2 linked regions of the Homo sapiens genome follow. The protein of the gene in region 1 purifies or fractionates together with the protein of each later gene. This does not show direct contact. Each region holds a gene or a part of one and is shown on either strand. Other genes may lie near its edges.

Region 1 (3,825 bases):
ATTGTGAGGGTTGCATAATTGATATTTGTAAAGCACTTGGAGACAGTGCCTGGCACATAGGAAGTGCTAATATCTACATGGCCTAATTGCCCCCCTCCTCTCTTCTCACCAGCCTTGGTAAAATCAGACTTCCTTCTCTCTCCTGGGAATATATGGCCCATCGCTAGGCCCCTAAGTCTGATGTCTGCTCTGAAGAGTTGATAGTGGAGAGAAGGAACATTACCCAGCCTGTTATTTCTTCTCTGTCTGTACCTTCTTCCCGTGTTATCATTTCTGTTCCCATTGCTTTAAATATCCATTTTGTGTAGGCAATTCCCAAGTGTAAATCTTCAGTCCTTAGTTTCTGCCAGAACTTCAGACCGACTTAAAGACATCTCCATGTGGGGGGGGGGGGGGGGGTCTTAGCATTCCAAACTTAACATTCCTAATATAAAACTCTTTTTTTTGTCCTGAAAACTTGTTTTTTAGTAAGTTTTTCCCATCTCGTTACGTGGAAAGGGGAACTGATTGCCCAAGTCAAAAACCCAAGAGTATTTTTTTTAACTCCGCTCCTTTACATTGAGTCTGTCGGCAAGTCCTGTCTGTGCTGCTTCTAGAGTGCATCCCACTCTTCTACCTCCCTCCTTGCCTTTCTTACCACCCCAGTCACTTCTCGCTTGAGCTGCTGCCTGAGAAGCTTCCTCACTAGTCTCTCTGACTTCCACTCTTTTCTACAGTGCATTCTTCACACAATAACCAGGGTGAGCTTTCAAAAATGTAAATTGGATTGTGTCCTTCCCTGCTTAAAAGCCTTCCGGACTCCCAATTGCCCACCTTGTCAGTCATCCCTTTATCTGTTCACGTCTGTTACATGGTGTTTCTGCACTGGAATGGAAGATTTTTGAGACCATGGGTATTGGCTGTATCATTGCATAATTCCCAGTATCTGGTGTATAATAGTTGTGCAGTAAAGACTTCCTAAGTGAACAAGAACATGCTCTTATTCTTATTTCTAATACATTTTTCACTCCCCCACGCCGACCCTTTCTTTTTTCCTTTTTTGTAAAGGATGAGCTTTGGAGGATCCAGGAGAAGCTGGAATGTTACTTTGGCTCCTTGGTTGGCTCGAATGTGTACATAACTCCCGCAGGATCTCAGGGCCTGCCGCCCCATTATGATGATGTCGAGGTAAGAGATGGAGAAAATTGCCCCATGTTGGGAAGAATGAGTTGTTGAGAGCCTGGTTTAGTAGAGTTGTCAGGGTGAGTTCACATTATTCTCTAAGGCTCTTAGGTCTGTATTCGCTCTTTCTGTGCAGTTTCTGAGATATTGATTTCATCAAAATGTTGGGCCAAAGTAAATCCCACTAAACTGGTTTCCTGCTCTGTCTCAAAGGAACAGCTTGTTTCCAACCTTACTAATTTAAAGAGCCACACATTCGTCTGAAACAAGTATTTATTGAATTTATCTACAGAAAGGTGTGCTTGGCTTTTCCTTTAATTTCACAAAGTATGGTCTTTAATAAGATGAGGTCACAAATAATCCTTCATGTGCTTTCATTTTGTTCTTTTTCAGTAGCTGCCAAAAATATGTATATATTTTCCATTTGTGAAAATCTTGGGGCAGCTTGAATGAGGGTCATGGTTTCACTTAAGCATTGGCATCTTGACAAGTGTTGATTTCACTCTGATATGGCTTCCAAAAAAATTTAACTCTTTGGCTTATGTATTCCATAGTTTTATTTTTGTCCTAATATAAGGTGTAAACACAGAGTTATTGGTAAAAAGTCCCCTTTTTCTCCTTTGATAGCAATTTGACATCAATACATTTTCACAAAATGTTATTTTTAATATTTTTAATAGAATATCTTTGACTGAATAAAGAATAAAAAACTCGAAGTTTTCCTATCTCCCCAGGCCCTTTCAACATTCAGGATTTAGACATTCAGTAATATCTGAAGCTTGGCTTTTCCATCAGAGATTATGGGCTTTTAGCTGTCTGATAGAAGATTTAAAGGAATGAGATAGTGGGATATAAAGAACTCAGCGAGGCTCTAAGAAAGTGAAAAGAATGAATATCCAGTGTCAGGATTCACGATTCCGTTTTTAAAAATAAAACCCAGTAGTGGCAACTTTTGTTTAACTGTGGAATGACATGCATTTCTCATCTTTCATTTTTATTTTTTATCGGAAACTTGACCCTTGTGCAGTGTGGGGGTTAGTGGTGCCAACACCTCATGCAGTCAAAAATCTGCTTGTAACTTTTGACTTCCCTAAAACTTAACTACTAGTAGCCTTCCATTGCCTAGATATCTTACTGATAGCATAAATTGGTTAACACTTATTTTGTATGTTATATGTGTTATATACTTTATTCTTCAGTAAAGGAACCTGGAGAAAAGTTATTAAAATTATAAGAAAGGGAAAAGTATTTTTAATATTGTGTTTATCAGTACCGTAAGTTTACATCATTTGTTTACAAGCTGAATCGTCCATCTGAAATGGTGGGTAGCCACAGCTGCAGGCCTTAATCTACAATACACATCAAGCAATTCAACTTTTTCTTGTAACGTTACGACTTTTTTCTGTTTCTCGGGAGTACTTGCAGTAGCAGTAGTGGCACATCATATGGGTCCCATGGTGTTATTCACGGCTTAAGTTGTTGCACTAAACATGATGAAAAATACACAAGAACTGTTGAGAGATCATTTTTTACTGTGATACACAATTCACTGGAGAGAGGAACTGCTCATGTGGAGATAATTAGCATCACACTTGAGCTCGTGGCAATAGCAACAGGAGGTAGCACAAAATTATTACAGTAGTACAATATGTACTAAAGTTAATTTTATTCAGCTATTCCATATTGCATCTTTAAGTTTGTTTACATTTCTTGACTGCAAATGGTGGTCTAGAAGTATTTGTATAGGTAAGTTTTGATAAATTTTAACCTTCTGTAATAGATTTGTGAATATTTTATGGTAGTAGATGATAGACTAGTATCTACATATGTTTTTATATTTGATGCATTTATGACATTCTTAATTCTTTTGATATTTTTCATGTTTTTCAAATTGTTGCAAATCTCCTCCAAATTTTCCAATATAATTTATTGAAAAAAATCAGCATATAAGCGGACCTGCACGGTTCATCCCCATGCTGTTAGGCCAGGCGTGGTGGCTCACGCCTGTAATCACTTTTGGAGGCCCAGGTGAGAGGAGTGCTTAAAGCCAGGAGTTCAAGACCATTCTGGGCAACAAAGTGACACCCCATCTCTACAAAGAAGATAAATTAGCTGGGAGCTGTGGTGCATGCCAGCTTCCCAACTACACAGGAAGCTAGGGCAAGAGGATCATTGGAGCCCAGGAGTTTGAGAGGCTGCAGTGAGCTGTAATTGTGACACTGCACTCCAGCCTGGCCAGGAGAATGAGACTGTCTATAACAACTAAAAAAAAAAAAAAAAAAAAAAAACCTGTGTTGTTCAAGGTTCACCTATATATTTGTCTATTAGCCCCTTAGAGGGCTAATAGTCCGGAAGCACTTTGTGTGTGAGTTGTCAGGAAGCTCTCTGATGCTCCTGGGCCTTGTGGGTCTCTAGGTTTTCATCCTGCAGCTGGAGGGAGAGAAACACTGGCGCCTCTACCACCCCACTGTGCCCCTGGCACGAGAGTACAGCGTGGAGGCCGAGGAAAGGATCGGCAGGCCGGTGCATGAGTTTATGCTGAAGGTATGTGATAACCGTTGTGGGCACCTCATTGTTAGAGCCATTGTGGTTTCCCCTATTGCTAAGACAAGTTCAGGCTCAAGGTTTAGAGTTCGTGTGATGGTCCCCGTGGGAATATATCCC
Region 2 (3,825 bases), on another chromosome or scaffold:
TTTATACATAGACTCCAGTTTCAGAACTTCTGCTAAAATGGAATGTAGGTAGAGTAAGAGAAAACAATAAAGTTCTGTATTTATATAACAGTTTACTGTTGAAAATGAACTTTAAAATACATTATTTGATCCTTTAACAACCTTAAGAAATTGGCTGTATGGATTTCTTTATTCTTAACTTAGATTAAATAATTGTCTAGGAAATTAAAAGGCTTATTCAGGGTCGCATCCCTAATAAGAAGCTTATCTCTTGAGTGGGCAAATACTGTGCTTACTGAATGTCTGCTATGTATTAGGCCCTGTGGCAGGCGGTGGGTAAGGATTGCCCTTGAAAATGGTAGAGTTGAGTAGAGCAGTCAGATTTGTAAATATTTAGTGTGAACCTACACATATTTAGTCTTCATTCAGAGCTCTGTTTAACTGTGCCATGCTGGTTTTTAGGGAATATGGAGGAAGAGTATTTCATTAAAACTAAAATATTAATATATACTAACTTTCAGGTTTAAAAAATAACCTGATCTTTTGACTTATATAGAAGTTGAGTATCATCACAAAACATGATTTGTAGGGAATGGGCATGGTTTGTAGGAAGAGAAAGTTCAAGTTGAATGCCAAAAATAATTCATATCCTTTATAGTGTAAAACATTGGAGAGGGCAGCTAAGTGAAAATTGTGACTGTTTAAATTGTTTTTTGGGCTTTTTACAATTTTTTTTTTCTAAAGGTAGACATTATTGACATAAATGTAAAGGTTAATTTTGTGATTTTTGTTTTTAAGCATTTTTTTGAGATAACTGATGACCAATTCGACTTCCATACATACTGCATGAGAAAGATGACCCTTCGTGCCTATGTTGACCTTTTGAGATTAGAAGATATACTCAGAAGACATGCCTTTTATTTCAAGGCTGCTAGATCAGCGATTGAAATATACTTGAAATTGTATGATAATCCCTTAACCAATGAAAGCAAACAACAAGAAATAAACTCAGGTAACTGAATAGGAACTTAAAAGATTTTAAAAGGACACTAAATTTCAGAATGCCATTAGCGTAAACAATACCTAGAAAAATATTAATATATTGTCTGTTGGAGTTGAAGACAAACATTAGATAACTCATATGCCAAAAAACAAAAATGTTGCAGAGAGAGTTAAAAAAAGTGGGATGATATTCTGTAGCTGATGGTTCTAAATTACTTTAATGGAACAACTTAGAATTTTTTTTATTTTTGTCTTCAGAAAGACCAATTTAAGAACTGGGTATGGTGGTTCACGCCTGTAATCACAGCATTTTGGGAGGCCAAGGCAGGCAGATCATTTGAGGCCAGGAGTTCAAGACCAGTCTGGGCAACATAGCATGACCCCTGTCGCTACAAAAATTTTAAAAAGACGAGTTTAGGAAACATAGAAATGTCTGTGGACTAGTTTTTTTCTTTCTTTTTTAAAAAATTGTAACTGAAAATAGCTTTGAGCTCCTTAGGAAAAAATATATAATCTTAAAATTTCTAGTTCCTACTTTATTAAAAATAAGAATATCAGTGAGAATATCTGTACAGTTTTTTATTCACTAGAATGTTAATATCTAGGAATATTTGAGAAATAGTTAGCATGAAATGAGCCTAGGTAACTATCTCAGATATTCCTAGGTAGCTGTTCATTTCTAATATTTATATAGTATTTAGAGATCACAGGTGTTTATATGTATTATCTCACTTATTCTTGAAAGACTTGATACTGAGAAGGACAAAGTGATTTGCCTGGAGTCATATATTGTGTAGGAGGCAGAACTGGGCTACTATTGGTCAATTTTAGTTAATGCAACATTTACTGGCTGTCCTTTGTGTGCCCAATTTTGTTCTAGTCACTGGGGATACACTTTCTAAAAGCTTTTATATGGGTTGCCTCTGCATCCCTCCTTGCCCAGACAAAAAACAGAAAAAAAAAGTATACAGCTGGCCCTCCATTTTTGTGGGTTCCACATGGGTGGAACAAATCATAAATATGTTTTTTTAAATTGCATCTGTACTGAACATGTCCAGACTTTTTTTCTTGTCATTATTAGTATTTCCTGAACAATGCAGTGTAACAACTATTTACATAGCATTTACATTATTTTAGGCATACCTATAGACCATAATATAATTTATGAAAAAGTGAAGTCATTATATGCAACTTAAAGCAAAAGGAAGGTGAAAGATTTAAAGCTGATCTAATTAAAAGTATACAGGAGGATGTACATAGGTTGTATGGAAATACTGTGTCATTTTATATCACAGGCTTGAGTATCAGTGGACTTTGTGGGGGTGGGGGTCATGAACCAATCCCCCACTGATACCAAGGGACAACCATACTAACAGTATGTATTACAGAAGAATATGAAGAAAATGCAAACATTGGCTCAGAATTTTGTTCATTTGGATATTTATAGAAAACTTGTCAGCCAAAGAATTGAAGAAAATGCTTAGCAAGCAGAGAAGAGCTCAGAAAAAGGCTAAACTAGAAGAAGAAAGAAAGCATGCAGAAAGAGAACGTCAACAGAAAAATCAAAAGAAAAAAAGAGATGAAGAAGAAGAAGAAGCCAGTGGCCTTAAGGAAGAACTTATACCTGAAAAATTAGAAAGGGTGAGATGGGTTTTACTATCTTTGTTATTTGGTAAAATTTATGCTATTTGGTTCCGTTCTGACAGTTAACATGATTTATTTAAATCTGTAAGAAGCCATTTGAAATATTTCAAGGTTTTTATAATAGCCGTCAATTATCTTTGAGTGACAGTATACAAATTTTGGCTAATGCAAGTTATACATAGAATTGCAATTGTGGTAGGCAGAGTAATGGCCCTGCAAAGGTGTCTGTGTTCTGGTCCCCCCAGCCTGTGAATATGTAACCTTACATGGCAAGGGAGAATTAAGGTGGGAGATGGAATTTATGGTTGTAATGAATTGACCTCAAGATAGATTAGCCTGGATTGTCCATGTGGTCCTAATATCGTCAAAAGGGGCCTTAAAAGTTGAGGATGCCAGCAGCAGAGGTCAGAATGATGCAATGTGAGGAGGACTCAACCTGCTGTTGCTGGCTTTGAAGATGGAAGGAGGGTGCCCCAAGCTAAGGAGTGTGGGCAGTCTAGAGAGGCTGAAAAAGGCATTGAACGGATTCCCCCTTCGAATCTCCAAAGGAAATGCAGTCCTGCTGACACCTTGATTGTAAGCCCAGTGAGACTGTGTTGGGCTTTTAACCTATAAGAACTATAACATAATAAGTGTGTTGTTTTAAGTCAATAAATATTTGGTAATTTGTTACAGCAGCAATACAATTGTCCATTACATATGGAATCATTTTACCTTATATGTCTTACTAGAAATGTTGTAGCTACAAAGAGATAGCACCTCCAGGATTTTCTCAAGTGTTAATAGTTGTTTTGGGATCAGATTTAAGGAAATATTTAGTTTTCTGGTTTATTCACTGTAAGTCTAGTACAGTTGGCCTTTGAACAACATAGGTTTGAATTTTGAGGGTCCAGCAAAGGATGGTTTGATAATTTTAGAAAGATGTTTGGGTTAAAAAATGTCCAGATAACAGAAGAATTAACTTCTCACCAAGAGCTGGCAGAGAAGTTCCAGATGCCATTGAGAAAATCATTGAGGAGAAGAGGTATCTGCCTGAACAGGTTTTTAATGTAGAAAAAAAGTGCTCTATCACAGGAAAAAATAAAAGCCACAAAGGACATCTATTAGTAAGGAAAATAAGCGAACACCAGGATTTAAGGCAGGAAGGGATAGGCTAACTGTACCATTTTGTGCAAATGCAGTTGGGATTATGACCATGGC

What was found.
Region 2: the proteins of RIOX2 (region 1) and NAA16 fractionate together in Homo sapiens (co-fractionation; one large-scale study listed by BioGRID). This does not show direct contact.

What each region holds. Positions count from the first base shown.
Region 1 is NC_000003.12:97,958,931-97,962,755, reverse strand, and holds part of RIOX2 (ribosomal oxygenase 2), read left to right. Parts: intron 1-1,047; coding exon 1,048-1,167; intron 1,168-3,576; coding exon 3,577-3,705; intron 3,706-3,825. UniProt on the Homo sapiens protein: Oxygenase that can act as both a histone lysine demethylase and a ribosomal histidine hydroxylase. Is involved in the demethylation of trimethylated 'Lys-9' on histone H3 (H3K9me3), leading to an increase in ribosomal RNA expression.
Region 2 is NC_000013.11:41,366,662-41,370,486, forward strand, and holds part of NAA16 (N-alpha-acetyltransferase 16, NatA auxiliary subunit), read left to right. Parts: intron 1-777; coding exon 778-991; intron 992-2,428; coding exon 2,429-2,622; intron 2,623-3,825. UniProt on the Homo sapiens protein: Auxillary subunit of the N-terminal acetyltransferase A (NatA) complex which displays alpha (N-terminal) acetyltransferase activity.